4 linked regions of the Homo sapiens genome follow. The protein of the gene in region 1 interacts with the protein of each later gene in a biochemical or structural test. Each region holds a gene or a part of one and is shown in the gene's direction. Other genes may lie near its edges. The genes, in order: CSTA, CTSL, CTSH and CTSB.

Region 1 (7,035 bases):
GGCGTCGCAGCAGGGGTCTCGCCATGGAGTATGGGCTGCTCTCCTGCCATCCCGCTGGCTGCACTGTCTCTCCCCTCCTCAACATGGAACAGAAACTCTGCTTTTCTCAAGCCAGGAAGCCAGACAACAATGCGGGTACAGGGATTCAGCTTCCATGCACTATGATGGCCAGAGCATGTTGAGTGTTGAGGGTTTAGTAGAAGAGAGGGAGTTAGTTCGTGTTTTCCTAATATACCAGTCTACACATTGCCTCCAGTTTTATCTTCCTAAAGCACAAATGGCTTCTCTATAGCTCTGACTTTTCAGTGACCTCCATTACCTAACAACTAAAGTGTAAGATCGTTCACCTGTTTTTCATGACCTGTCCTCAGTCAACCCTGCCCCCCACTTTCCCTCTTCACCACAAGGATAGCCAGGAGGAATAACTATGTCCTCCCTTGAACACACACTTCAAATAGGGCCTTCACAGTCATTTTTAAAGCACTGTATTGGTGCAGTAGGAGTTAAGACTCTAATGAAAAACATTAGAGGAAGAAGTATAACAGCGAGACCAAGAGACACACAAAGAAGGCATTCAAAAGGCAGTGCTTTTATATTCTAGCTTTTTGGGGGTGTAACTTACATATGATAAAGTCCACCCACTTTTTTATTTTTTTATTTTTTTGGTGTGGAAACAAGACCACCCACTTTAAGTGCACAATCTGATGAAGTTTGGTAATCATATACTGTTGTGTAGCCACTATCGCAATCCATGTATAGAACAATTCCATCTCCCTAAGACGTTTTCTTGCGCCCCTTTACAGTGCATTCCATCCCTCACCTCAGCCTCAAGCAACCTCTGATCTCCTTTTTGTCACTATAATTTTGCCTCTTCTAAGGTCTCATCTAAATGGAATAATATAGTCCATGGCCTCCTGTGTTTGCTTTCTTTCACTTCTTCTTACATTGTCTTGTTTTTGAGGTTTACCTATGTGATTTAATGTATTACTATTTTGTTCCTTTTTATTGTTAAGTAGTATTCTATACTGTGACTCTACCACAACTATTCTTACCATTCACCAGTTGATGGACAAGGAGTTTTCTTCGGTTTTGAATCATTATGAATAATGCAGCTGTTAGCATTCATATGCCAGTCTTTGTGCAGACATATTTCATTTCTCCTGGGGAAATAGCTAGCAGTAGGAACGGTGGGTTGCATGGTAAGTGTATGCATCCACACATCTACTCCTGGCAATGGGTAGAAGCGCAATTAGCTGGGGAAGTTCAGAGCCCAGGCCTGTAACTAAAGCTGGAGACAAGCCCAAATTCTCAGTATCTTTATGGTGCAAGAGCTCTAAGCCAACAGTAAAGTAAGAACTGGGCTGGGGCTTGTGTACCTCCTAGGACCTGGTAGCGGAAACCACCCCATAGGAAAGCCCCACAAACCAGCCACAAAAGAGAAAACTCACATAAAAGATAACTCCTGTGGCAGATGAGCTCACAGACAAGAAATATGAAATATATGAGGATATCTAGCTCCAGAAACACAGTCTGCATAATTCATACCAAAAAATCCAAAAAGCAATCTTAAAGGTACCTTTAAAATAAATGTGTATTTAATCAACTGTTTGTTTAACTTAAGTAAACAATTAATACAGAGATATGAATTGTGCTTTTCTCTTTTGCACTTCCTTGTGTGCGACTCTTTCCCTGTCAATCAGAGGCACACATACTACTCTTGAGAAGAACTAGGATTGTTATAGGAGGAATACAAAACACAAAAGCAATATTTGCTTTGGGGAAGTTTTTACTTCTAAAATAAATTATTGAGAATCAATAGGAAAAAGCTGAAAGTACAGGGCATAGACCCTAGAAAGAGAAGGGTAGACTTGTGGTTTACCATATCTCTTACCACTGGGGAGATTCAATAAGGATGGCCTGGACTAGGATGTCAGCAGACAACTAAAAATGGGCTTCAGGCTTGGAAAAACGTCAGGGGCCTTAATATGAAAGGACTTGACTTGGGGAGGTCACATGAAGATGAGTAGAACCAGTGGCCTATGAAAGCTGAGCCAAAGTCTTCAGATGACCTGTGGCCTCTTGAGGGAGCACCTTGTCATCCACATTCGCTGTTCTTCTTAATCCACAGGGTAAAGGCATTCTATGGAGAGATACTTGTGTAGCACCCCTTAGTTTAGCCTGTAAGACACTCACTTAGCTCCAAGAGTTTGCCAAGCACCCACCAAACATCATTATAAAGAAACAAGCACCTCCCTGTATTGTGATATAGAACAGTCTCCAAAATATATTGTTAGGAATAAAACAAAAAGTATAATAATTTATGTAGGATACCATTTTTATAAAAGAAAACCTATATAGATGAATATGTATCTATGTGTGTGTGTGCGTGTGTGTGTAGCCAATTTTTTTTTTTTTTTTTTTTTTGAGACACAGTATTGCTCTGTCACCAGGCTGGAGTGCAGTGGCGCGATCTTGGCTCACTGCAACCTCTGCCTCCCAGGTTCAAGCGATTGTCCTGCCTCAGCCTCCTGAGCAGCTGGGACTACAGGCGCACGCAACCACGCCCAGCTAATTTTTGTATTTTTAGTAGAGATGGGGTTTCACCATGTTGGCCAGGATGGTCTCAATCTCTTGACCTTGTGATCCACCCACCTCGGCTTCCCAAAGTGCTGGGATCACAGGCGTGAGTCACCGTGCCCAGCCTCCAATTATTTTTATATTTGTATGTGTAAAGAATGTCTCTGAAGGATACAGAAGAAGTTGGTGCCAATAATTGTCTCTGGAGAGTAGAAGGGTGTCTGAGGAATTAAGTGAGTGAATAATTCCTTATATTGTAAAGCCTGGTTCCTTCCAAACATTTTTATCCTGTGTATGTATTATATATTCCCAAAATTGAATAAAATAATATACATAAATATTCACACAATGTGGCCATTTTGCTTCTAGATAAGTTGTCTGCAGAAGCCCTCACTCATGTAAAAAGGAGAAAAAATGCAACGTTGTTTGTAAGAATGAAACACCAGAAACAACGAAAATCGTCATCAATAGAGAAATGAGTATGTAAAATATGAACTAGAATATAGCAATTAGATAGGTAGACTAAATAGATAGGTCTAGCATAAAATAGCATATCACAGTTAAAGGAAATGAACAGGATTGATCTATCTGTGGATTGATCTATGTGTATATCAACATAGAAAGGCTCAAAAACATGTTGAATAGAAAAAGGAACATAACATAGAATATATTTAGCATACAATTTAAGTGAAATTTTAAAGACACACCAAGTAAGACATATTTTAATTTTAAAGACACACATATAAAAATGGCCTGGAAGGATATTAATTCACCATGTACTTTGCCTTCTGGAAGGCAAGGTTGCGTGGGGTGTGGGGCTTCCTCCATATCTGTAATATTTTATTTCCTAAAAATAACTACAAAAATAAAAAACAGCAAGCAAATATGACAAAAGGGTTAAAAGTTTTAATTCTGAGTGATAGAAATATAGATGTTTGTTATTTTATTCTTTGTGTTTTACCGTATGTTAAACATTTCCAGATATTTAAATAAGAGTAAAGAAGACACATCCAGCCAAGGTCCTCCAGATAGATCCTTTTGCTTTCTTTCTAAAGTCAAGTAAATTCTAAACTAACCTTGACATTATTAGTAAGTTTTGCTTTAAAAAAAATAAAATTTTGTGTTAGAAGTTTTAAAACATTTGGAAATTCTAGTTGCGGCTTCAGATTTCATAATTCAGATGATGCAACAGGATGGAACCATTGTCAAAGAGAATGCAGGGACGTTTGATGCTTGTTAGGACATGACTCCTGTACTTGCCCATTTGTTCATCCTCCAACCCCTCTTTCTTCCAAATTCCATGTAGCATATTCTCTCCAGGAAGCAAGAAGACTTGCCTGGCGGCATACTCATTTTCCCCATGCCTCTTTGCTGTTTGTGGAAAATAAAGCATTCTATAGGCGGAGCTAGTGAACGCCTCTTTTAAAACACGAGTCTCCACACTTCCCTGTTCACTTTGGTTCCAGCATCCTGTCCAGCAAAGAAGCAATCAGCCAAAATGATACCTGGAGGCTTATCTGAGGCCAAACCCGCCACTCCAGAAATCCAGGAGATTGTTGATAAGGTGAGTTGATGCCATTCAGGAAAAAGTCTGAGCCAAAATCTTGATTCATAAGTTGTCCCTGTGGAAAGGCTGTGGTTGAACATGAAAACCAGAAGTTTAGGATGTTTGTGGCTTTGTTCAGGTTTCTTTACAACTAAGATGAAATAAGAGTTTTTCAGATGAAGCCTCAAATAATCCCCAAACTGTGAGTGTGACCTTGAGCAAATCACATTTCTTCTCTGAGCTTCATTTTCTCCATGGGTAAAAGAATTTGTATTGTATCTTCTCTAAAGCTCTTACAAGATATGATTCTAGAATTACTAATTCAGTTTCTGATGAAACTTTTCTAATCTCACCAAGTGAAGCCAACGTGTAATTGAAGTCTAAGGTTATTAACAATTTGATGAAGTAGTCTTGGAATGCACTGCAGGGAAAATTTTTTTAAATAGATTGAATGAAGAATAATATTGTAAAGGCAATCTACTTACAAACTTCATACACTTTTGCCCAAATAGATAGTGTTTTAGTCTTTTCATAGTTAAAAGGTAATTCAACTAATAGAACAGAGGTGACAGTCTATAGTGACTCCGAAATGTCATAGGGCACCAAATTATATATGGAAAAATAGAACTCAATGTTGTTAGCAGATTGATGTGTTTTTCACTTCTTCTTTTTTGTTTTGTTTTGTTTCATTTTTAAGAGATGGGGTCTCACTCTGTCACCCAGGCTGGAGTGCAATGGTCTGATCACGGCTCACTGTAGCCTCAACTTTTTGAGTTCAAGCGATCCTCCCCACTCAGCCTCCTGAGTAGCTGGGATTACAGACATATGCCACCACGCCTGGCTGATTTGGGGGGTTTTGTTTTGTTTTGTTTTTAGAGATGGCATTTCATTCTGTTGCTAGACTGGTCTTGAATTCCTGGGCTCAAGCCATCCACTCACCTAGGCTTCCCAAAGTATTGGGATTACAGGCGTGAGCCACCACACCCATCCCTGATATATTTTTCTTTGTGTGATTAGCTATCATCTAGCTATGTAGTAAACATTTATTTGCATATTTTATGAAAGGAAAACATGTACAAATTACTACTTTAGGTTTTTAGTTTGTTGCCTTATTTTCTTATATTATTCCTTCTTATTTTTTCTCTCTGAAACATCATTCTATGACAGCTTGGAAAACAAGATCAGCTTTTTGTGTGATTATAAGAGTTGGGATCCTGTATATTCTGGGAACTAGAAAGCTCTCTAAGGGGCCAGATGCCTAGAATCCCATCACTCATTCTTGGGGACTAATTATTTCTCTTTCAAGAGTTCTTTTTTTAAATAAATATCTTGGAGCTTTTTTCCTGGGAGATGATATTAAGTCAGTAATGTCTTCATGTGAATCCCCAGATCAGATCAATGTTCTCAAACTTGAATGTGCACATGAATCACCTGCACGTCTTGATAAACCTTAGATTCTGATTCAGGGGACCTGGGGTAGGTCTGAGATTCTGCATTTCTACCAGACTCCCAAGTGCTGCTGCTGCTGCCACCCATGGCCTTGCTTGCTGGCAGGACCAGAGATATATGGCATCCTACAAGGCCAGTGGGAGATGGGGCTTTAAAAGTCAGGGTGCAGGCTGGGCTCAGTGGCTCATGCCTGTAATCCCAGCACTTTGGGAGGCTGAGGCAGGTGGATCACAAGGTCAGCAGTTCGAGACCAGCCTGGCCAACATGGTGAAACCCCATCTCTACTAAAAATACAAAAATTAGCCGAGCATGGTGGTGGGTGCCTGTAATCCCAACTACTCAGGAGGCTGAGGCAGGAGAATTACTTGAGCCCAGGATGCAGAAGGTGCAGTGAGCCAAGATAGTGCCTGCACCCCAGTCTGGGCAACAGAGCAAGACTCTGTCTCAAAAAAAAAAAGGGCCAGGCGCAGTGGCTCACACCTGTAATCCCAGCACTTTGGGAGGCCGAGGCGGGTGGATCACGAGGTCAGGAGATCAAGACCATCCTGGCTAACACAGTGAAACCCCGTCTCTACTAAAAAATACAAAAATCAGCTTGGCGTGGTGGCGGGCGCCTGTAGTCCCAGCTACTCGGGAGGCTGAGGCAGGAGAATGGCGTGAACCCGGGAGGTGGAGTTTGCAGTGAGCCGAGATTGCACCACTGCACTCCAGCCTGGGCAACAGAGTGAGACTCCGTCTCAAAAAAAAAAAAAAAAAAAAAAAAGTCAGGGTGCCAAAATAAAATTTGTCTATTTCATTTGAAAAATGAAGGTAACACCTCTTGCCCTACCTATGTCAGAGCTGTAAGGACTAAGTGAGATAATGTGCATAAAAATGACTTGAAAATGAAAAAGAAATGTGCATAGGTGAGGTATCACAATTGTTTACTTCAAATTTGTGGCTGAAAGCATCCCTGACCCTAAAAAAATCCCCCTGAGACTCTCTAAGGAACAGAGCTGTAGGAACATAGGGAAAAATAAATTTGAAATAGAGACAGTACAGAAAATTTTAATGATTTTTAAAAAAATCTATCACTCGATTAGCAAGAATTATTAATTTTTAAAATAAGAAGCTACCAGAAGGCCTTGCATTGCTAATAACACCTATCTGTGAGCCCCATCTTAAATTATAAAATTAATTTGAAAGTGTGTGTGTGGCAGGGAGGAAGCTGCTTCCCTTTGGCTCCAATGTCATCAGAGAGGTAGAATGAGAGATAAGTATTAAGAACAGCTACCTCACCCCAGAAAGGGGTTTTGCAGTTTTTAAAAGCTTGACCTCCATTCGAGCTCTGATTTCATCTTCATAACCCCTGGAGCAGGCAGGGAAGATATTGTGTCTATCTTGCAGATGATGAAACCAAGATTCAAAGAGATTAAGAGTCACTTAATTAAACTGGGCATGGTGGCTCAAGCCTGTAATCCCAG
Region 2 (7,587 bases), on another chromosome or scaffold:
TGGGAGGTTGTCTGGACAGTGTCTTTGCTATCTGCGTTGCTCCTCTCCCCACCACCCATGTGCATTTGCCCCTCTGTCCCTCAGTGCATTTCCCCCAGGATGCTCTGGCCAAACTGACCAGGTGTCTCCATCTCTGCCCCTTTTCTTTCCCCTGAATGCTGTCCAGTGTTTTCTGGAACCTGTGAACTTCCCGTGAATGATAAATACCAAGAGCTTCTCAAAATGAGACCCCATGTTCTAAACAGAACCTGCAGTCAGGATTCCAGGGAAGGTCAGCAGGTTCCCACCCCCAGAAGCACTTTGCCGTGTAAGACATTGTCTATGGAACATCAATGTCACTTAGGGCCTTGGAAAGACATTCAGGAAGGGAGTTACTACGCCTGAATTTCTGGAGATGTGTTTAGTAGGGAAGAATTCACTATAATCCATGAATGATTGATTGATTTCTAGAAAGGCTCACGCATGTTTCTTTTTGCCACTCAGGACTGGACCTCTGAATCAGTGCGGAATATGAATGAGAGCGGTCAGGGGAGAACTGGAGGATGCTGGTGGAGGCTGGAAGGCTTGCAGTCACCTGCCTGTGCTTATCTAAGTGATGAGAATGTAGGAGCAGCAGGACCTGGCCCATCACTACCCTATGTTTGTTACAGGAGAGAGGACCGTCCTCCCACAGGTCAGAGCTATTGTTAATCAAGGTGACAGTGCAAGATGCATTCCCACTCCTGACTTCTCGCTGTAAATAGGTTTCCTGAGTGGTGTTGGTTTATTTTCAATTTGGAAGCCAGTTCAATCAAATGTTTCACTAGATTCAAGTTTGATGAAAATACTAGCAAATCCCCCAACTAACGAGTCACTATAAGTAACTCAAGGCATCAGTCCTGCTCCCCACATAAGGGAGTACTGGTCCTGAGGAAATGGGACCACATATATAGGGAACAAAAGTGATACAATGGGCCATGAGGGTGTGATGAGTATCCCAGTGATTGCTTTGGGTAAATTTTGCTGGCCACATCGGTTTCAGTTCCTCTACATAGACAAGGAAATGCTCCTCATGACCGACAACAGCTCCTCCTGCACCGAGGCTGTCTAGTCATTAGAATGGTCTCTAGAAGACAATATCATCAGCAATCACTGCTAGCAAGGAGCTGGCTTCTGTGGTACTATGTTGTTGCTAATAGTTTTTGTTAGAGCAACTGCATTGTGGGAGACCTGATCCAGGGAAGGCAGAAACCAAAGCCTGTGCTCCCAAGGAGGTTATGGAAAATGAAGAAAAACACCAGCCCCTCTGCAGGAGGAAGCTGGAAATGGTTGGAAGGACCACCCATGGCTAGAGCCCCAGCACTTGGGTCATGACTCACCCTGGGTAGGTCAAGTACAGGCCCCACTTCTTCAGGCCTTGGTTGTGGATCAGACCCTGGATTCTTCCCCTCCGGGTACAGCCCAGTTGCCATGATGCTCCTTGAGTCAATGAGCTCTTTGGTCTGATCTTCTGCTCAAGCAAAGAAAGGGTCCGGCTTCAGTTCTCAGAGGCTGATAAGTACCAAGGTGGCAGAATATGGGAGTATCCTGCAGGTGCTCCCAGCATCTGCCCTGGCTCAGGTGCCAGAGGCTTGCGATTTTCTAGCTCTTGACCTCACACCCTCGATTGTTTGTTTTCCAATTCCTTCCTGAATAACGGGGTGAACATGCCACCCCTCCTGGTGGCGAATGGGGTTCCTCAGAACTGGGAGGCCACAGTCCAGATTCTGAGGCTCTTCACTAAGCAAGTGCTGGAGAGCAAAGCCACTCACTCACAACTCTCTCTCTTTCTCTTTCAAATTTGGGGAAGGGGAGGCCATCTGAGCAGTTTCTCTCACACTCCCCAGTAAGGAACTCATGAAGGACCAAGTGAGCTCTAAGCCCCCGGTAGAAACATTCAGCTGTTCCAATGAACTTCTTGTGATCCTGAAATCTGCAAAGTTAGAACCAAGGCAGACGTAGGTACTCCAGTTACCTAACACCACAGAAATATTGTTTTTATTTCATAAAATAATAAATTTAAATACTGCTATGGTTTCCTTGTTTGCCCCCTCCAAAACTCTTGTTGGAACTTATCTCCAATGTGGCAGCATTAAAATGTGGGGCCTTTAAGAGGTGATTAGGACATATGAGCTCTTCCCTAATGAATACATTAATCTATTCATGGAATAATGGGTTCATAGACCAACAGGTTATCTTGGGAATGGGACTGATGGCTTTTTTTTTTTTTTTTTTTTTTTTTGAGATGGAGTCTCGCTCTGTCACCCAGGTTGGAGTGCAGTGGCGTGATCTCGGCTCGGCTCATTGCAACCTCCACCTCCCAGGTTCAAGTGATTCTCCCGCCTCAGCCTCCCAAGTACCTGGGATTACAGGTGTGCACCACCACGCCTGGCTAATTTTTGTATTTTAGTAGAGACAGGATTTCACCCTGTTGGCCAAGCTGGTCTCAAACTCCTGACCTCAAGTGATCTGACTGCCTCGGCCTCCCAAAGTGCTGGGATTACAGGTGTGGGCCACTGCGCCCAGGCAGGACTGATGGCTTTAAAAGAAGAGGAAGAGACCTGAGCTAGGACACTCAGCCCTCTCGCCCTGTGATGCCCTACACCACCTTGGGCCTCTGCAAAGAATCCCCACAAGCAAGAAGGCCCTCACAAGATACACTTCCTGGACCTCAGACTTCCCAGCCTCGAAAACTGTAAGAAATAAATGTTGTTCTCATAAATTACACAGTTCCAGGTATTCTGTTATTAGCAACAGAAAAGAGACTAGGACAGATATCACAGTTAGATTGTATTCTACACATTGTGACTGGTTCTCCAGAGAAGCAATGCATAAAAAGAGGAATAATCGGCCGGGCACGGTGGCTCACACCTGTAATTCCAGCACTCTGGGAGGCCAAGGCAGGCGAATCACGAGGTCAGGAGTTCAAGACCAGTCTGGTCAATATGGTGAAACCCCATCTCTACTAAAAATACAAAAATTAGCCAGGCGTGGTGGTGCGCGCCTGTAGTCCCAGCTCCTCTGGAGGCTGAGGCAGAGGAATCACTTGAACCCAGGAGGCAGACATTGCAGTGAGCTGCGATTGCGCCACTGCACTCCAGCCTGAACAACAGAGCCAGACTCCGTCTCAAAAAAAAAAAAAGAGGAATAATCTCCAAAATAGTAAACAAATTCCTGCAGACAGGAAATATAATGGTAGATACCTGAGCTAGGAGAGGGGGAATGGGGAACTATTATTCAATGGATACAGTTTCAGTTTAGGAAGATAAACAAGCTCTGGGAATAAACAGTAGTAATGGTTACACAATGTGAAGGTACTTAATGCTACTGAACTCAAAGTTGGTTAAAATGGTACTTGCTATGTGAGGTATATTTTACCACTTAAAAAACTATAGGTGATTGTGCTTCTAAAAGAGTTATCAGTTTAATCTTCAATAGAAATCAATGGACTTTGTTCATTTTTAACAAAGTCAAAATATGCATACGAAAAGGTTATGGGGTAAAGGCAGAGGTAATTATTTTTTTCCCCGAAAGGTATTTTCTACAATGAATGTTTTTATGTAATAAAAAATGAAATGACAAAAGTTTAGAATGTTTGTGGGTTTTGTTCCTTAAATCCTTAATTACATAAATTAATATCTACATTATACAGATTAAGATACATATTTTTCCTCTATCTACAACATTTCTCCATTCTCTGTATCTTAAATCCTGACATTAAATGTCATTAAATTTCTTAAATCTCAAGAGAACGACTTGGTTACCAAGGAAGATATAATCCATAGCCTAGAGAGTGGGCGAATAAAAGCAGCTTCTAATGTTCTCAACTGCTTTTCTCCTGTCAACCAAATGTTTCTGTAAATAACTCATTTCTGTTGGTTTTGGGTAAGACGTGGGAGAAGGAAGAATCCCTGAATGGAGGAGTCTGGAAAGGATGCTTGACAAAACGCCCGCGCTCTCTGGAGACGCAGCCAGTCTCCTCCCTCCTAGGGTCTGGTCTTGACGATAGCATCTCGTGTTTTGGGGATGCCTTTCCTTACCAGATTCTTCTAAAGCCCAGCTGCACCCACCCTTAAGTGGGAGATAAGGCTTCTGCCCGCGGGCTCTGCGTTCGTCCACCCGGCCCCACGTTTGCTGTGGACTAAACAGGAGCCACTGGACTAGAGTACACTTGACTCTCGGCTCTGCGGACCAAAAATTCCAGGACTAAGGAATAGCAAGGTTAGGCTGAAACAGTCCACACAGGGCTTGCGGTAAACGTCTTTTCAGGAGCCACTCGCCCAGTGCAGTAAGTCGTGTACTTAGTTGACTCGAGCGCTCCAGGGAGACGCCCGACCCTACTCTGCGCCGCCCCGGGGCACCAGCTCTGCTTCCTCCAGGTCCACTGAGGCAGGCACGCCCAGCTCTGGGACAGTCAGTAAACAAGCCACGAACCGCGCCAGGGATCAGAGCACCCAGAGTCCCCGCCCAGCTGCCGGCACAGCCAATCGCAGCGCAGCCAGGCGGCGGGGCGGTGCCGGCCGAACCCAGACCCGAGGTTTTAGAAGCAGAGTCAGGCGAAGCTGGGCCAGAACCGCGACCTCCGCAACCTTGAGCGGCATCCGTGGAGTGCGCCTGCGCAGCTACGACCGCAGCAGGAAAGCGCCGCCGGCCAGGCCCAGCTGTGGCCGGACAGGGACTGGAAGAGAGGACGCGGTCGAGTAGGTGTGCACCAGCCCTGGCAACGAGAGCGTCTACCCCGAACTCTGCTGGCCTTGAGGTGGGGAAGCCGGGGAGGGCAGTTGAGGACCCCGCGGAGGCGCGTGACTGGTTGAGCGGGCAGGCCAGCCTCCGAGCCGGGTGGACACAGGTACCGCAGCCAGGCCGCGCCGCGCCGACTCAGGGCCTGGCCCGGCCAGACAGGGAAGCTCAGTCCCCGCACGCCAGACAGCGGTACTCCTGCTGGCGTCACCGCAAACATCCTCTGACCGCTACAGCCAGTGTGTGGCGCAGGCGTCATGTCCCCGGCCCTGCCACGCCTGGAGCCCTGGAAGCTGGCTGCAGGGCGCTGGCTTCCCGCGTGCGGCCATATGACCCCGTCCCTGATTTAGGGGAGCAGTTTGGGGTGTCGGCAGCACAGGCCCAAGTGAATGAAGGAGGGAGCAGTGCGTGCTCTCCTTCCCAGTTTTTCCTGGGAAAGCATTTCAGAAAGGTTTCATTTAAGGAGAGGTTGGGGCGGCGCGGTGGCTCACTCCTGTAATCCCAGCACTTTGGGAGGCTGAGGTGGGCGGATCACCTGAGGTCAGTAGTTCGAGACCAGCCTGGCCAACATGGTGAAACCCCGTCTCTACTGAAAATACAAAATTAGACGGGCGAGGCGGCGCACGCCTGTAGTTCCAGCTATTCAAGAGGCTGAGGAAGAATGGCTTGAACCCGGGAGGCAGAGGTTGCTGTGAGCCGATATCGCGCCGTTGAACTCCAGCCTGGGCCACAGAGCAAGACTCCATCTCAAAAAATAAATAAATAAATAAATAAATAAATAAATAAATAAATAGGAGAGATTGGAAAACTTATCTCAGCTTTTGGTGTTTGTTAGTCAGGAAGATGTGTGAAGGCCTCCTAACTCTTGGGGATCTCTTTGTCCCTACTTGGGAATCCCACCTTATCATTAGTGAGGTTTTGCCTGGGCACGAAACCTGGATTTTTTGCGATTGGTACAAAACCTGGATCAACCGTTTCCCGGTTTCCTAGTTGTTGCCTTAAGCTTCTCACACACAAGGTAGTTTCATACCGTTCTCATAACCTAAATTGTCATCGCATAAACTGTTTCAGCTCCTACAGCTCTGGACAGGCTGCTTTTCATTTTGGTGAGTCCATCCAGTACCTCCACGTGCCCTGTTTTTCTCCAGGCACATCCTTGGCCTCTTCCACAGTCCTTGGGTAAATGCTTGGGAGAATAATTTAAATATTTTTATTCTACCATGGTGGCCCTAATTTTTCAGGGGGCAGTAAGATGGCTTTTTAGGATTGGTCTAATCAGATCCTCATTTTTGTTCCCTTCCTAGGTTTTAAAACATGAATCCTACACTCATCCTTGCTGCCTTTTGCCTGGGAATTGCCTCAGCTACTCTAACATTTGATCACAGTTTAGAGGCACAGTGGACCAAGTGGAAGGCGATGCACAACAGATTATACGGCATGGTTAGTGAAACTTCCCCAGAAAGAATAGTCCTGGCTGTTGAGAAGTTTTAGTCAGAGAGTAGCTTCTAGAGGCCAGCTTTTACCAATAGCCTAATGTAATAACCTAATGGCGTGGATTATGAGCACAATGTGGACATTCATCCTTGTTGTGTCTCAGTTTGGAGAACAGCATCCCCAGAGGTGTCAAGCCTTCCCTTGCCATGGTTTCTCTTCCATCTCTGTCTGCAGATTCACTTGGTGAGGATGAGTTGGGTTTTAGGTAGAAGTAAAGAGCATCAGTTACATGTTTGCCTCTAGAATGAAGAAGGATGGAGGAGAGCAGTGTGGGAGAAGAACATGAAGATGATTGAACTGCACAATCAGGAATACAGGGAAGGGAAACACAGCTTCACAATGGCCATGAACGCCTTTGGAGACATGGTAAGTGTGCTGTGGACTGCCGAGCTCTGTGCTTCCTCTCTTCGGTTCTTTACTAAGGTAATCTCTTGCTTTTCAACATTTTATTTCCTTTTCCTTGAAGACCAGTGAAGAATTCAGGCAGGTGATGAATGGCTTTCAAAACCGTAAGCCCAGGAAGGGGAAAGTGTTCCAGGAACCTCTGTTTTATGAGGCCCCCAGATCTGTGGATTGGAGAGAGAAAGGCTACGTGACTCCTGTGAAGAATCAGGTGAGACAGTGTCAGGTTCAGACCTCCCATCTTCCCAGGAAAGCCAAGAAGTGATTGACATCTTTGTTTTGGTAGACTTTAAAGTGATGTACAGTTCACTTTTTAACAGTATTCAGATGTGTGAGCTGTTGTCAAAGTCTTATTATTTTTTTTTTGTGGATGACAGCTTTTTTTAATTCCCTTTTCAGGGTCAGTGTGGTTCTTGTTGGGCTTTTAGTGCTACTGGTGCTCTTGAAGGACAGATGTTCCGGAAAACTGGGAGGCTTATCTCACTGAGTGAGCAGAATCTGGTAGACTGCTCTGGGCCTCAAGGCAATGAAGGCTGCAATGGTGGCCTAATGGATTATGCTTTCCAGTATGTTCAGGATAATGGAGGCCTGGACTCTGAGGAATCCTATCCATATGAGGCAACAGTAAGTGGAGCTCCTTGTCATCATTCCAGCTCAGCTTTTGGAAGGTGGACACTTTAAGAGATAACAGATACCTTTTTCGGAATTCATATATTAGGGCTGGGTGGGGTGGCTCACGCCTGTAATCCCAGCCCTTTAGGAGGCTGAGCCAGGCAGATGGCTTAAGCTCAGGAGTTTGAGACCAGCCTGGGCAACAAGGTGAAACCTTGACTCTATCAAAAATACAACGAAAATTAGCCGGCTGTGGTGGTGTGCGTCTGTGGTCCCAGCTATGCTGAGGTAGGGCGATTGCTTGAGTGTGGGAGGTGGTTG
Region 3 (6,837 bases), on another chromosome or scaffold:
GACCATGGATAGGCCTGTTCTTTGCCCTTGGCCTCTCAGCCCCCATATGCACCAGACCTTCAGACCAATGAGGCACCTGCCAGTTTGGGTGTTTCATCTGGTGTATTGGTTTCTTCCTATTGTTGTGTTCTAATTACCACAAACTTAGAGGCTTATAATAGCACAAATGTACTCTACGGAAGTTCTGTAAGTCAGAAGTCCATGTGGACTTGGTTGGTTCCCTGGAGGGTCTGGGGGAGAATCTGCTTCCAAGCTCATTCAGAGGGCTGGCAGAATGCAGTTCCATGCTGGTGAAGGGCTGAGGTCCTGGTTTCCTTGCTGGCTGTCACTACGGCCAGCTTCTATAGGTTGCCTGTGTACCTTGGCTTTGGCCCTCTTCAAAGCCAGCAGTGGCAGATAGAGTCCTTCTCATGATTCAGCGCTCTCTGACCCCACCTGCCTCATCCCCCCTCTGACTTCTCCAACCTCTCCTTCTGCCCCCTCTCTCCGACTCTTCTCCTATGCTCTTCTGCTTCTAAAGGCCCACATGATTCCACAGGGCCCCTCGGATAACCCAGGATAATCCTATTTAAAGTCAGCTGATTCAAACGTTGATTCCATCCGCAAAGTCCTCCATGGCAGTCGCTAGATTGTGCTTGAGTGAATAGGAAGCTTTCGAGTTCTGCCTACCAGCCCTGTCCAGCCAAGACTGTGCCAGCAGCTGCAGTCCTCAGCCTCATTTCTGTAGAGGTGTAGAGGACTGGAACCACGGAGAAGCCCTCCAGCCAGCTGGAGCCAGAGGGTCAGACAAACTCACCATGAAAAGTGTGTGCAGGTAGCAAAGGATAAAAAGCACACAACGGAGCATCAGAAAAGCCCATGCATGGGGGGAGTCTCTATTCTGGTGCCATGCTCAGGGCCAGGTATTTTACCTATAATTATATTTAAACTGCATGACCGTATCTAACTACCCTGGAAAGCAGGGATACTTGCTCCATTTTACAGATGAGGAAACTGAGGCTGGTGGGGGGGAGGCGGGGGGGAACCATTTGCTTAGGTCACACAGTGAATCTGTAGTAGGGCTAGAACCAAACATTGGTCTCCAATTAACCAGGTCAGTGCCCTCCACATCTCAGCACCCAGGGGCCCTGGCCTGCTGGAACGATCCACAAAGGAGGGTCACCAGGGACCTAGCGCAGGAGGCAGCTCTGGGGCCTGAGGTCTAGCATGCAGAGCTTTCAATTCTGACATCCTCCAAGTGGCTGGGATGGGCAGAGGGGTGAAGCATTCCAGGTACACATGAAGGGCAGGACATCTGCCTAGAAGGACACCTTTATCCCAAGGCCAGCGACTTCTGTTCCAAATAGTAACCGAGCAGGGTCTTTTCTGAGACATATGCCTCAAAGCACAGAGAGACTGGTCACACCCAGAGAGGGGCATCCAGACAGAGATGGAGTCACAACCTAAGGAAGATCTGCTTTATCTGAAAAAAGGTGCCTGCTGGAGCTCACCCTGGTTCCATGGAGATTCCATGTCCACATGCCACACTGGCCACAGGAGAGGAGAGAGACTGTGGGGGAGGCTCTTTAAATGCAGATTTCTGAGCCCTACCCAGACCCAGTAGGTCATATCCCAGGAAAGAAGTCCAGGAATCTGCTTCCCCAGGTGCCTGAGACACAGAGTCTGGGCTAGAACATCAGGGGATGAAACACCAGTCGGAGGGAGGCCACGAGAGAGCTCAGATCTGGCTCTACTCACAGGTTGGAAAGATGCATTTTTAAAAAGAGAGGGAAGGGCACAGAGGCTCACATCTCTAATCCTAGCACTCTGGGAGGCTGAGGCAGGAGGATCACTTGAGCCCAGGAGTTTGAGACCCCATCTCTACTAAAAATACAAAAAAACTAGCTGGGCGTGATGGTACGAGCCTGTGGTCCCAGCTACTCAAAAGGCTGATGTGGGAGGATCTCCTGAGCCTGGGAGGCCAAGGCTGCAGTGAACTGTGATGATGCCACTGAACTCCAACCTGGGTGGCAAGAGAGCCAGGCCCTGTCTCAAAATAAATAAATAAAAATTTAAAAATGAAGAGACAGAGAAAGAGCAAGCCCAGAGCAGAGAGCACTGCAGTAGGTCAAGGCTGGGTTCAGACACTCTCTGCGCACAGACTGGGAAAGTTACCATCTACTCTTGTGGCCTCAGTTTCCTCATCTGTAAAATGGGGGGTCAACAACATGCCACTTTGCAAGGTGATGATGTAAGTGAAGAACAGGGCATCACTGGGCATTTGAGGCTACGGCACAGGCTGGTCTGAATCACCCTCTCCTCACCCAAAGCAGTGACAGCACCGGCCTCCTCAGCCTGGAACGCACGTTCTTCTGTCTGTCTCACACCCAGACCCTTACATACCATCTTCTTTAGCTTTGCAAACTACAGAGAATGGCCCTACAGCTCTTAATGTAGCTTCCTCAGCAGAAAGACTAAAATGTCTGTTGAGGGGGCAAAACAATTCACAAGGAGGTCGTCTAGCTTCTTCAGTTGTAAGTCCACTCCAAGCAAAAGGGAAGCCAGGGAAATGTGGTTAACCAGGGCAGGGAGACGTGGGGAGTGTGGGGGAAAGTCTGAGGTGGAGACACACAGGGACATGGGGGGTATGAGGTGGGGACAGGCAGGGAGATGGGGGTGCAAGGTGGAGACACGCAGGGACATGAGGGGGTGTGAGGTGGGGACAGGCAGGAAGATGGGAGGTGCAAGGCGGGGACAGGCAGGGACATAGGGGTGTGAGGTGGGGAAATGCAGGAAGATGGGGGGATGTGAGGTGGGGACTGGCAGGGATATGGGGGTGTGAGGTGGGGACAGGCAGAGACATGGGGGTGTGAGGTGGGGACAGGCAGGGACATAGGGGTATGGTGGGGATAGGCAGGGAGATGGGGGGTGCGAGGTGGGGACAGGAAGGGACATAAGGCTGTGAGGTGGAGACAGGCAGGGACATGGGGGGTGTGAGGTGGGGACAGGCAGGGAGATGGGGGGTGCGAGGTGGGGACAAGCAGGGACATGGGGAGTGCGAGGTGGGGACAGGCAGGGACGTGGGGCGTGCGAGGTGGGGACAGGCAGGGACATAAGGGTGTGAGGTGGAGACAGGCAGGGACATGGGGAGTCTGAGGTGGGGACAGGCAGGGAGATGGGGGGTGTGAGTTGGGGACAGGCAGGGAGATGGGGGGGTGCGAGGTGGGGATAAGCAGGGACATGGGGGTGCGAGGTGGGGACAGGCAGGGACATGGGGGTGGGAGGTGGGGACAGGCAGGGACATAGGGGGTGGGAGGTGGGCACATTCAGGGAGATGGGGGTGTGAGGTGGAGACAGGCAGGGACATAGGGGGAGCGAGGTGGGGACAGGCAGGGAGATGGAGGGTGCAAGGTGAAGACAGGCAGGGACATGGTGTGAGGTGGGGACAGGAAGGGACATGAGGGGTGCGAGTTGGGGATAGGCAGGGAGATGGGGGGGTGCGAGGTGGGGACACGCAGGGAGATGGGGGACGTGGGGATGGCGACAGGCTGGGAGAGGGAGAGGCCAGGCTGAGACCTCCCCGCGCGGTGCCAGCCAGTCCAGGCAGATCCAGGACTCAGCCAGGCCTGATACCCAGATAAGCCCTTCCTCCCAGAGGAGATAAGGGAGCGACGCGGCCGGCCGACAGGTGAACTAGAGCTGGCGAGTTAGTCGGCGCCGCCCCCTCCCGCGAGCCCGGCCTCGGGGGAGTACCGCCCACCCCGCCCCGCGCTCGCTCCGCCCCGCGCTCGCTCCGCCCCTTCGCGCTCCCGCCGCTCCTCCACGCTCGTGCCGCTCCCCCCCCGCGCTCCCAGTTGACGCTCTGGGCCGCCACCTCCGCGGACCCTGAGCGCAAGAGCCAAGCCGCCAGCGCTGCGATGTGGGCCACGCTGCCGCTGCTCTGCGCCGGGGCCTGGCTCCTGGGAGTCCCCGTCTGCGGTGCCGCCGAACTGTGCGTGAACTCCTTAGGTACGCAGAGGGCGCGCCGCCCGAGAGGGTGCTAGCAGGCCCTAGAGTGGACGCTGGGAGAACTTGGCCAGGGGCGCACTGGGCTCCGGAGGAACGGGGCAGAGCTTTCCCCGGTGAGAGGCCAGGAACTCTGCGTGCTGGCACGGGGAGGGGTAAACTGCATTATAGGCGGGGGTTCTCGGAGGGTGGGCGGCTTGTAGGACCAGAGGAGCAGATGGGCTGAGTGTCCAGGGTCCCACCTAGCCAGGTGGCTCTCCAGCCTAGAATACCAAAGGAGCCCGCAGCTCCTTCCGCCTTCCTCAACTGGGGACACAGAGTGTCACACAGAGGACTCTGATCTGTCCCTGCCAGAGGTGAGCAAGGACGTCCCAGCCTTCTCTAGCAGCTTCCCCCGGGACTTGGCACACAGGGGATCCCCGTAGTGTCTTGGGAGTCCCATCTGTAGAGTAGGTTGGACGGGCTGTTTGGAACAGTGAATCCCTGTGCAACGGCACCAGGGAAAGCACTCAGACCAACAGCGCTTTTAACAGCACCCCAGGGCCCATGGCGTCAGGTGGAGCCCCAGGACTCCTCTTGTTGGCCAGATTGGCTGCGACTGGTCCAGCTTCGTGCTGCCCTTGCATCCTGTCTACTGCCCGGGCTCAGGCACCTCCCCTGGCTGAAGGCAAGGAGCCTGCTCTTCCCTACTGCCTCCCTCCTTTCCTACTGTCCCTGGTCCCAGCCTCAGCCCACAGGCTCTGAACTTAAAGACCACCTGCCCCCTTCACCGAGAAAAGTAGCCAAGAAACAACCCAAGGAGCCAAGAACCTAGGGAGGGGGGGTGCCCTGAGCTCTGGAGGAACGGGACAGGGCTTTCCCCCAGCTAGAGGCTCAGGGGATGGGACAGAGATCACTGAGGCTGAATCTGGGCCAGAGGGTTGCCTCATTCCTTCCCACCTATTTATTTAAAAAGCTCCCCAGCCTTGCAAACCTCAGTGGGCGCCCAGCTCCAGGTCAGTTCCCGCCTAAGGAAAACCTAGCTGCCGCAAGCGAGGGCTGCCTGGAGAAGGCTGGCGCTGAGAGGCTGTCTGAATTCCAGAGCAGGGCTTGGCAAACTTTTTCTGTGAAAGACCAGACGGTAAATAACTTAGGCTTTATGGTGGTCTCTGTAGCAACTACTAACTCTGCCATGGTAGTGTGATAGCAACCATAGATTGTATGTAAGTGAGTCAGTGTAACTGGGTTCTAATAAATGATTTTTATGGCCACTGAAATTTCAGTTTCAAGGGATTTTTGGGTGCTACGAAATATGTTTCTTCTAACCATTTAAAATTGTAAGAAACCGTTTGTAGCCCAGGAGCTGTACTAAAACAGGAGTCAGGGACCGGCTGCGGTGGCTCACACCTGTAATCTCAGCAATTTGGGAGACCGAGGCAGTCGGATCACTTTAGGTCAGGAGTTCGAGAGCAGCCTGGCCAACATGGTGAAACCCTGTCTCTACTAAAAATACAAAAATTAGCTGGGTGTGGTAGCCAGGTGCCTGTAATCCCAGGTACTCAGGAGGCTGGGGCAGGAGAATCGCTTGAAACTGAGAGGTGGCGATCACTCCAGCCTGGGTGACAGAGTAAGACTCCATCTAAAACAAACAAACAAACAAACAGGGGAATACTGTACTTTCCTGAAACCTGCTGTAAATCCAGGCAAGGTATTATGGCACTTTTAAAGTCCTGACTAGATTGGAATGGATCTATTTTAGGGTAAGGCACGGTTCACCAGCAGATTATTCTGGCCCCAGAATAATCTCTCCAGAGGCAAACTGGTAGTCAATTGTCCTAAACTCAAACCCTGCCTCCAACTCTTGTCCTGAGTTGAGGTCTGTCTTCCTCTAAAGCCCTCAGCTGCAGCAGGGCCCTTAATCAAGATCTGGAATCCCCTGAAACCCTAAAGGGAGCCATGTTGAGGAAATGTGCATTTTCCCCAGGGAAAACGGCCATAGATTGGTCTCTGGAACAGGTTCGAGACCCAAAAACGGAGATCTAAATGCTGTGTGGTAGTGATCTTCACACTGGAGGTATGGATCCTTGGGGAAACAGGAAGATATTTCAAGTGATGCCGGCAGAGAGTGTTCTGGAAATCCATTTACAGACCTTTTATTTCCAAGTGTCCTCTTTGCTAAAACTGGGAGAGAGCCCCTGAAGGCAAGGGGGAACCTCTTTCCTCTCATTCAATCTGAACCTGAACCCATGGGTATAAAAACAATAGGGACAGCAAACAAAAAGACAAAACGGTAATAAATCGTTCATATCTGGCATTCTCAATTCCTCAAGGAAACTGAATTGAAGAGGAGAGGACTTCATGGGGATATCAACTGATGAGGTCTTAAAAATAATGTTGAGTGAGGCCAGGCGTGGGGGCTCACGCCTGTGATCCCAGCACTTTGGTAGGCCAAGGTGGGTGGATCACCTGAGGTCAGAAGTTTCAGACCAGATTGGCTAACATGGTGAAACCCCATCTCTACTAAAAATATAAAAATTAGCCGGGCGTGGTGGTGGGCACCTGTAATCCCAGCTACTTGGGAGGCTGAGATAGAATTGCTTGAACCAGGGAGGTGGAGGTTGCAGTGAGCTGATATCGTGCCACTGCCCTCCAGCCTGGGCAACAGAGCCAGCCTCCTTCTCAAAAAAAAAAAAAAAAAAGAAGGAAAGAAAGGGAGGGAGGGAGGGCTGAGTGATAGAGCACCATGGGATTGGATGCACAGAAAGGAGTGCGAAGAATTAAGTGGCATTGCTCTTAAAAACTGCCTCCATTCCCAGCTGCTTATTTGAGCAGGGTTTCCCAGCCCTTTGACCTATAAGAAACAAAAATAAGACC
Region 4 (7,535 bases), on another chromosome or scaffold:
CATCTGCTGAGACCCTGGCTGCAGACATGGCTTCCCTTCCGAGGGAGTTCATGTGAAAGTCGAGGCCCCCACCGGTATTAGAGGAGCAGCCATCTCTTTTGCTCGCAGTTAAACAAGTGCTCTCGCAGTAGGATAAGCCACAAAGGAGACACTGTAGGAGAATAAAGAGGAATCCTTCTGGAAGCCAATAGAAAAAAAAAAAAAACAATGTGGTCAGCCCTCATAAGGCTAGAACCAGAAACTTAGTTCTCTGAAGCCAAGGCACTGTAATTTCCCTCCCTCTGATGACAGTCACACCACAGAAAGGGAGCTGTCGGGAGGAAGAAGAAGGAGCCCAGAGGCACGGCTCATACCTCCCTGCTGGAAGGAGGGGTAAAGGGCACGAAAGTCCTTTGAGAAGAGAGGAAGGAGAAATAGAAATGAATAAGACAGCACCCTACACCAACCAACTTAGAGTTTAGATAGGAATGGAGACATATTTCTGAAAATACTGGAAACAATCACAGCCAAATAAGAAATCCAGTTCATTTCAACACTGAATAGTTGGGCACTGTAGCGTATTCAAGGATAATTTTTAAAAATTAAAAAGTTAAATCAGGCTGGGCGAGGTGGCTCACACCTGTAATCCTAGCACTTTGAGAGGCGGAGACAGCAGGATCATTTGAGCTCAAGAGCTTGAGATCAGCCTGGGCAACATGGGAAAACACCGTCTCTACAAAAAATACAAAATTAGGCTGGGCCCTGTGGCTCACGCCTGTAATCCCAGCACTTTGGGGGGCCGAGGCAGGTGGATCACGAGGTCAGGAGTTCGAGACCAGCCTGGCCAACATGGTGAAACCCTGTCTCTACTAAAAATACAAAAATTAGGGGAGTGTGGTGGCGGGTGCCTGTAACCCCAGCTACTCAGGAGGCTGAGGCAGAATTGCTTGAACTCGGGAGGCGGAGGTTGCAGTGAGGCGATATCGCACCACTGCACTCCAGCCTGGGCGACAGAGCGAGACTCTGTCTCGGCAAAAAAAAAAAATTCATATTAGCCCCCAGAGAAACCCCACACCCTTTAGCTGTCACCTACCTAACCTCCCATGTGGATTTCACGGAATCATACAATACTGAGTCCTTTGGACCTGGCTGATTTTACTTAGTAAACGTTTTCAAGGTTTATCGATGTTGTAGCATGTGTGACTACTTCATTCCTTTTTACGACTGAATAAAACTCCATTTGGTGGATTTATGACAGTTTGTTTATTCGTGCAATGGTTTTTAATGGATGGACATTTGAGTTGTTTTCACCTTTTGGTTACTGTAAATAATGCTGCTATAAACATCTGGTGTAAGTTTATACATACGTTATTAACTTTTGTTTTAGAGTTGGGGTCTCACTATGTTCCCCAGGCTGGTCTTGAACTCCTAGGCTTAAGTAATCCACCCACCTCTGCCTCCCAAAGTGCTGGGATTACAGGCGTGAGCCCACTGTGCCCGGCGGATTTTTGTGAGGACGTATGTTTTCACCTCTTTCAGGTGTTAACTTAGGCCTCTTTTACGGATGTTCAACAAGCAAACAGCTTTTACACACGTGAGTCAAGGCCTCTCTGTAAGTTCTGAGAGCTGTTCCCCAGGCCCTGAACCCTGACCCCCAAATCTAGCAGGTTAAGCCAAAATTCTCCTCAACTTCAAGGCCTACTTCATTCATTATGCATCCACTCAACTCACATTTCTCTATCCTCTGCTATGGGCCAGACACCCTGCAATGAGCTGGGATGAAGCAGGGGAACACCGCAGGTAAAAATGCTTGCCTGGGTGGGGCTTAAGATCCAGTGAGGGCAGGAAGGAACATATACAAGTAAATATGCTGTATGTTCCTTTCTCCATGAAGCTTTCCTGGATGTTCCAGGAAGGGACGAATTCTACTCTGGTAGTAATATATTTCTTTTCTTGTCTTTTGAGGAGTCTTGCCCATGTTGGAGTGCAATGGCGTGATCTCGGCTCACTACAACCTCTGACTCCCTGGTTCAAGGGATCCTCCTGCCTCAGCGCTCGAGTAGCTGGGATTACAGGCCCGCAATGCCACACCCAGCTAATTTTTGTATTTTTAGTAGAGACGGGGTTTCACCATGTTGGCCAGGCTGGTCTTGAACTTCCAACGTCGTGATCCGCCTGCCTTGGCCTCCCAAAGTGCTGGGATTACAGGCGTGAGCCACTGCGCCTGGCCTATTTCTTTTTTTCTTTTCTTTTCTTTTGAGATGGAATCTTGCCCGGGTTGGAGTGCAATGGCGTGATTTTGGCTCACCGCAACCTCCACCTCCCGGGCTCAAGCGATTCTCCTGCCTCAGCCTCTCAAGTAGCTGGGATTACAGGCGCGTGAACCACCACGCCCAGCTAATTTTTGTATTTTTAGTAGAGACTGGGTTTCACCATTTGGGCCAGGCTGGTCTGGAACTCCCGACCTCAGGTGATCTGCCTGCCTCAGCCTCCCAAAGTGCTAGGATTACAGTGGTGAACCACCGCGCCTAGCCTGTTTCTTTTGTTTCAAAAGTGATTTTTACCTCTCAAAAGTGATTTCTATAATGACACTGATGGAAAATTCCATCAAATAGCCATAACGCATGTCAAGCACTCTGCTCTGCATACCTTCTGTCACACTCTAAGGATGAGAGAGGGGAGAGTTATCCTGGTTCTGGCTGTGTCCTCCCCATTTTGGCCATCTTATGAGCTCCTTATAGAGGTCTGAAATGATTTGGAGTCCAGAGTCCATGGCTGTCAGGATATGACTAGGGTGAGCAGGCAGTTGGGACCACCTTGACCTCCAGCCTCCTGGTCCTCAGTTCCTCGGGTATCCCACTCTGCTGGGGGCTTAGTGACCATGTTTGGGCTCCAGAGATTATTTTTTCCTTCCACTCCTATCCTTAGTTTGTTACTAACCAGGCGGGAGTACAGGCATGTCTCTGAAGACAGGCTCAGGGCTGTGTGACAGCTGACGACCAGGCTGCAGGGAACCAGGTCCCATGCAGTCCTACTGCCTTTTTTTTTTTTTTTTTTTTTTTTTTTGAGGCGGAGTCTCGCTTTTCGCCCAGGCTGGAGTGCAGTGGCACGATCTCAGCTCACGGGTTCACGCCATTCTCCTGCCTCCGCCTCCCGAGTAGCTGGGACTACAGGCGCCCGCCACCACGCCCGGCTAATTTTTTGTATTTTTACTAGAGACGGGGTTTCACCGTGTTAGCCAGGATAATCTTGATCTCCTGACCTCGTGATCCGCCCGCCTCGGCCTCCCAAAGTGCTGGGATTACAGGCGTGAGCCACTGCACCCGGCTACTGCCTTCTTACTGTCGCCACAGCCTGGATAAAATACGATTCTTCTGAGCCTTTTTTTTTTTTTTAATACAGAGTTTCACTCTTGTTGCCTAGGCTGGAGTGCAATAGTGCGATCTCTGGTCACCGCAACCTCCGCCTCCCGGGTTCAAGCGATTCTCCTGCTTCAGTCTCCCGAGTAGCTGGGATTACTGACACGCGCCACCACGCCCGGCTAGTTTTGTATTTTTAGTAGAGACGGGGTTTCTCCATGTTGGTCAGGATGGTCTCGAACTCCCGACCTCAGGTGACTCACCGGCCTCGGCCTCCCAAAATGCTGGGATTACAGGCGTGAGCCACCGAACCCAGCCCCTCTGAGCCTCTTGAATACAACTGGGGTCATGCCTGCTTTGCAGGTTTGTCTTAAGGATTAAAGCTGTTTGGGGAGTGTCTGGAGGAGGGTGAGTCTTGAGCCAACCCCTGCATCTCCCTTCCAGGGCCTCCCGGTAATAAACCCCAAGTAAATGTGCACTTTGTCCGTCCTCTCGGAGCAGGTCTCCGGGTACTCCTGTGCCAAACCGATTTCCGCCCCCAAGGTCCTTCTCCTCTTAGAAATCCTGACGCAGCTCCTAGGTTCCTTCGCAGTGACAGCCACTCTTTTCTATTTGTACGTAGCTGTAGTGTTTTGTGGGTACGTTCTCTGAACAACAAAGTGGCCCTTCTAAAGGCTGTTCTGTGGGGTCCACAGCCTCGCCACCCCCAGCCTCTGCAGCGGCTTCTGAATGAATGAAATAAGCGACGGCGCCCTCTCCACCACCCCACCCCCGCCAACTCGGCAGGCAGGGATCCCAGGCGCGGGTTCTGGCGGAGGCGGTCCCGCGAGGCGGGGGGACTTTTCTAGGCGGGGTGGGGGCCTTGGGACCACCTTTAGGGGCTTTTTCCCCATCCCCTGGCCCCAATTCGCAGCGTTTCGCCACCCAGGGCCCGCAGGGCTCCAAGCCCTTCTTCCCCAGCCCGCGCGCTCAGGCCCCCGCCCGCCCCCGGCGGTGGCCCCGGACCCCGAGCGGAAGGGGGCGGGGGGTGTGCGGGGCCGGGAAGCGGGGAGCGCGGGCGGCGGAAGGTGGCGGGAGGGGGTGGGGGCTGGGAAGCACCGTGCGCGGGCGGCGGGAGGGCCCGGGCGGGGCTGCGCGGTGGTCACGTGGGGCGGGGCCGGGAGGGTACTTAGGGCCGGGGCTGGCCCAGGCTACGGCGGCTGCAGGGCTCCGGCAACCGCTCCGGCAACGCCAACCGCTCCGCTGCGCGCAGGCTGGGCTGCAGGCTCTCGGCTGCAGCGCTGGGTGAGTGCTGGGGACCCGGGGCCACCGCAGCGTAAGTGACCTTGGCGGGGACGGTGCTACCCGGCCGCCGAGACGGGTTCCTCTGCGCCCTCAGTCGGGCCCAGGCGCGGCCCCGCGGCGTCCCTGGGGGCCGGCGGGGAGCCGGGACCCTCGGGACTGTCCCTGACGGGCGGGCTGGGGTGGGAGTCCGCGCGCTCCGAAGCGTCGGCGAGAAAAGCAGAAAACAGCTCCGCCCGCCAGCCCTCTGCCCTCCGCTCCCCTCCCCGGGCTGTGCGCCGGACCCCGGCCCTCGGAGCGGGGACGCGGCCAGGACCGCCGAGGGAGGCGCCTGCGAGGAAGAGCTCGGCCGGGTCCGGAGACTGCTGCCTGGGACCGCGCTCCCAGCGCCTGGGCCTCGGTGTCTCCGGGCCAAACTGCCGACATAATCGCATCTGCCGGCATCTATTTTCGGTTTATTTCCCCCTCATTGCGAAGGATTTGCCTGGCCAACTTTCTGCGCAAGATCCCACGCAATTCCTGGGACCCCAGAAGACAGGTCCTGTTGAAGAACAGGAATCTGGCACTGGGTGGGCTGGGGAGGAAGCCGCACGGTGTTAAATCCATAAACAGGAAGAGAAACCAGACAGCGAAACCAAGAGGCGAATGGGCGATTGGATGCCGGTGGGGAGAAGGCCGGGGGCGCACCCTGCTCCTGGACTCCAGTAAAGGGAGGCCGGGCAGAGTCCCTGGGGCGCCACCTCCCCCTCGGTTAGTAGCCCTGGAGGCCGGGGGGAGTTGGCCTCTGGGGAGCAGTGGGTGCTGGGTGTGGGGCGTTGCAGGCAGGCTGGGGTGGGCGACCCAGGTGGAAGTGAATTGCACTTGGCTTCCTGGTGGGCCTCTGTCACCCCCTTCCCAGGCGCTGAGAAAGCCAGCAGGCTGGCAAAGAAAAGGACCCTAGCGCAGGCCCCACACTCCTCCTCCTAACGGACGAGAGACCCCCCAAACCCACTGGAGAAGTGACGCTGTGGGGTTCAAATGCAGACCTGGCACCTTTTTGTAGCCTGGAAAAACATTCCCACTGCCTGCTGCCGGAGGAGAGGATAGCTGAGATGCACTCTCTTTGAATCCAAACGTTCAGGAACGTAAGGCGAAGAGGCCTAAGAGGGCGTTGGCTGGCTCTGTCTCTCAGGCTGGAGCACAGTGGCGCGATCTCGGCTCACTACAACTTCCGCCTCCCAAATTCAAGCTATTCTCCTGCCTCAGCCTCCCGAGTAGCTGGGATTACAGGTGCCCGCCACCACGCCCAGCTAATTTTTGTATTTTTAGTAGAGATGGGGTTTCACCATGTTGACCAGGCAGATCTTGACCTCCTGACCTCAGGTGATCCGCCTGTCTCGGCCTCCCGGTGAGTCACGGTGCCTGGCCAAGAACTGTTTCTTGTTGGCTCTGGTGCTGGTGACTTAGAACCCGCCAGCTCCTGGAGAAAGGGGCTGGGCCGCCCACCCTGTGTAGCTTTCCCAAAGACAGAGTCAAACGTCTCCTGGAGAACAGAGGCTTCCCTTCGTCTTTGGTCATTTGTCCTCTAGCTGGGGGTACCCCCTGGTGGAAAGGCACAGGTCCCTTGCTCCCCAGGTGGCAACGCAGGCCAGACACGGCCCTGGCACAGCTCTCCTGGGTGTTGGCTCAGGACAGCCCTGTTTCCAACTGGTTAGGCGGTGAGGGGTGGTGGCCCTTTGGTTCCAGGTTGAAACTGCCCATGTGGTGCTGATTTAGCAGACTGGGGAGGCTCTTTTTGTAGGCAGGTTCTTTTCTTTCCCCAGCTGCTGGACCTGGGAGTTGGAAGAGAAGTTGCACCCATTTTAGGGGTAACAGATATTTTCTGTTGCTCTTGGTTGGATTGGGAAGTGAATTGAAGGGAGGTCACGTTTCAGGGGTGCCTTGGGATGTCTGTCAGTGATTTTCTTTTCTTTCTTAATTTCTTTTTCTTTCTTTTTTTTTTTTTTTTGAGACACACTCCCTCTATCGCTCAGGCTGGAGTGCAGTGGTGCGATCTCGGTTCACTGCCACCTCCGCCTCTCATGTTGAAGCAATTCTCCTGTCTCAGCCTCCCTCCCAAGTAGCTGGGATTGCCAGTGCCCATCACCACACCTGGCTTTTTTTTTTTTTTTTGTATTTTTAGTAGAGACGGGCTTTCACCATGTTAGCCAGGCTGGTTTTCGAACTCCTGATCTCAAGTGATCCGCCTCAGCCTCCCAAAGTGGTAGGATTACAGGCATGAGCCACCGCGCGGTGGAGGGGTAATTTTCTTAAATCTGGTAATGAGTTGTGGTTGTGTAGAGTAACATACCGTCCTTTCGAGATATGGACTGAAACATTGAGAGGGAGGAGTTACAGGTATGTCGATTCTTCTTTTCTCTCTCTCCTTTTTTTTTTTGAGGTGGAGTCTGACTCTCTCACCCAGGCTGGAGTGCAGTGGCAAGATCTCAGCTCACTGCAACTCCGCTTCCTGTGTTCAAGCCATTCTCCTGCCTCAGTCTCTCAACTAGCTGCGATTACAGGCATGTGCCTCCACACTCAGCTAATTTTTTTATTTTTAGTAGAGATTTTTTGTCTCTCCTAAAAAAATCCAATGTAAAAAAATCCCAATGTGGGGGTTTTGCCACGTTGGCCAGGCTGGTCTCGAACTCCTGACCTCGTGATCCGCCCACCTCGGCCTCCCAAAGCGCTGGGATTACAGGTATGAGCCACTGCGCCCAGTCTGCTGCCTCTTTTCAATGGTCTGGCCTAAGGAAATTATTGGAAACATGTGCGGTTGAGTGATATTTACTGGGCACTTCCACATGGTCCATGTAAAGGGAGATGGTTGGGGTGACAGGCAGTTGAGTCTAGGGGAGGCATGTACAGATGTGCTGTGCCTCTGGGATATCAGGGTGG

The links.
Region 2: the proteins of CSTA (region 1) and CTSL form a complex in vitro, tested with the Homo sapiens proteins (2 studies listed by BioGRID).
Region 3: the proteins of CSTA (region 1) and CTSH are reported together in a solved structure, tested with the Homo sapiens proteins (one study listed by BioGRID).
Region 4: the proteins of CSTA (region 1) and CTSB form a complex in vitro, tested with the Homo sapiens proteins (3 studies listed by BioGRID and IntAct, with this or other methods).

What each region holds. Positions count from the first base shown.
Region 1 is NC_000003.12:122,321,218-122,328,252, forward strand, and holds the start of CSTA (cystatin-A), read left to right. Parts: upstream 1-4,030; 5' UTR 4,031-4,075; coding exon 4,076-4,141; intron 4,142-7,035. UniProt on the Homo sapiens protein: This is an intracellular thiol proteinase inhibitor. Has an important role in desmosome-mediated cell-cell adhesion in the lower levels of the epidermis.
Region 2 is NC_000009.12:87,721,532-87,729,118, forward strand, and holds the start of CTSL (procathepsin L isoform 1 preproprotein), read left to right. Parts: upstream 1-4,587; 5' UTR 4,588-4,867; intron 4,868-5,829; exon of another isoform or gene 5,830-5,937; intron 5,938-6,062; 5' UTR 6,063-6,072; coding exon 6,073-6,198; intron 6,199-6,495; coding exon 6,496-6,618; intron 6,619-6,718; coding exon 6,719-6,865; intron 6,866-7,053; coding exon 7,054-7,278; intron 7,279-7,587. UniProt on the Homo sapiens protein: Thiol protease important for the overall degradation of proteins in lysosomes. Plays a critical for normal cellular functions such as general protein turnover, antigen processing and bone remodeling.
Region 3 is NC_000015.10:78,942,041-78,948,877, reverse strand, and holds the start of CTSH (pro-cathepsin H isoform a preproprotein), read left to right. Parts: upstream 1-3,831; 5' UTR 3,832-3,896; coding exon 3,897-3,987; exon of another isoform or gene 3,988-4,100; intron 4,101-6,837. UniProt on the Homo sapiens protein: Important for the overall degradation of proteins in lysosomes.
Region 4 is NC_000008.11:11,865,088-11,872,622, reverse strand, and holds the start of CTSB (cathepsin B isoform 1 preproprotein), read left to right. Parts: upstream 1-4,535; 5' UTR 4,536-4,622; exon of another isoform or gene 4,623-5,369; intron 5,370-7,535. UniProt on the Homo sapiens protein: Thiol protease which is believed to participate in intracellular degradation and turnover of proteins. Cleaves matrix extracellular phosphoglycoprotein MEPE. Involved in the solubilization of cross-linked TG/thyroglobulin in the thyroid follicle lumen.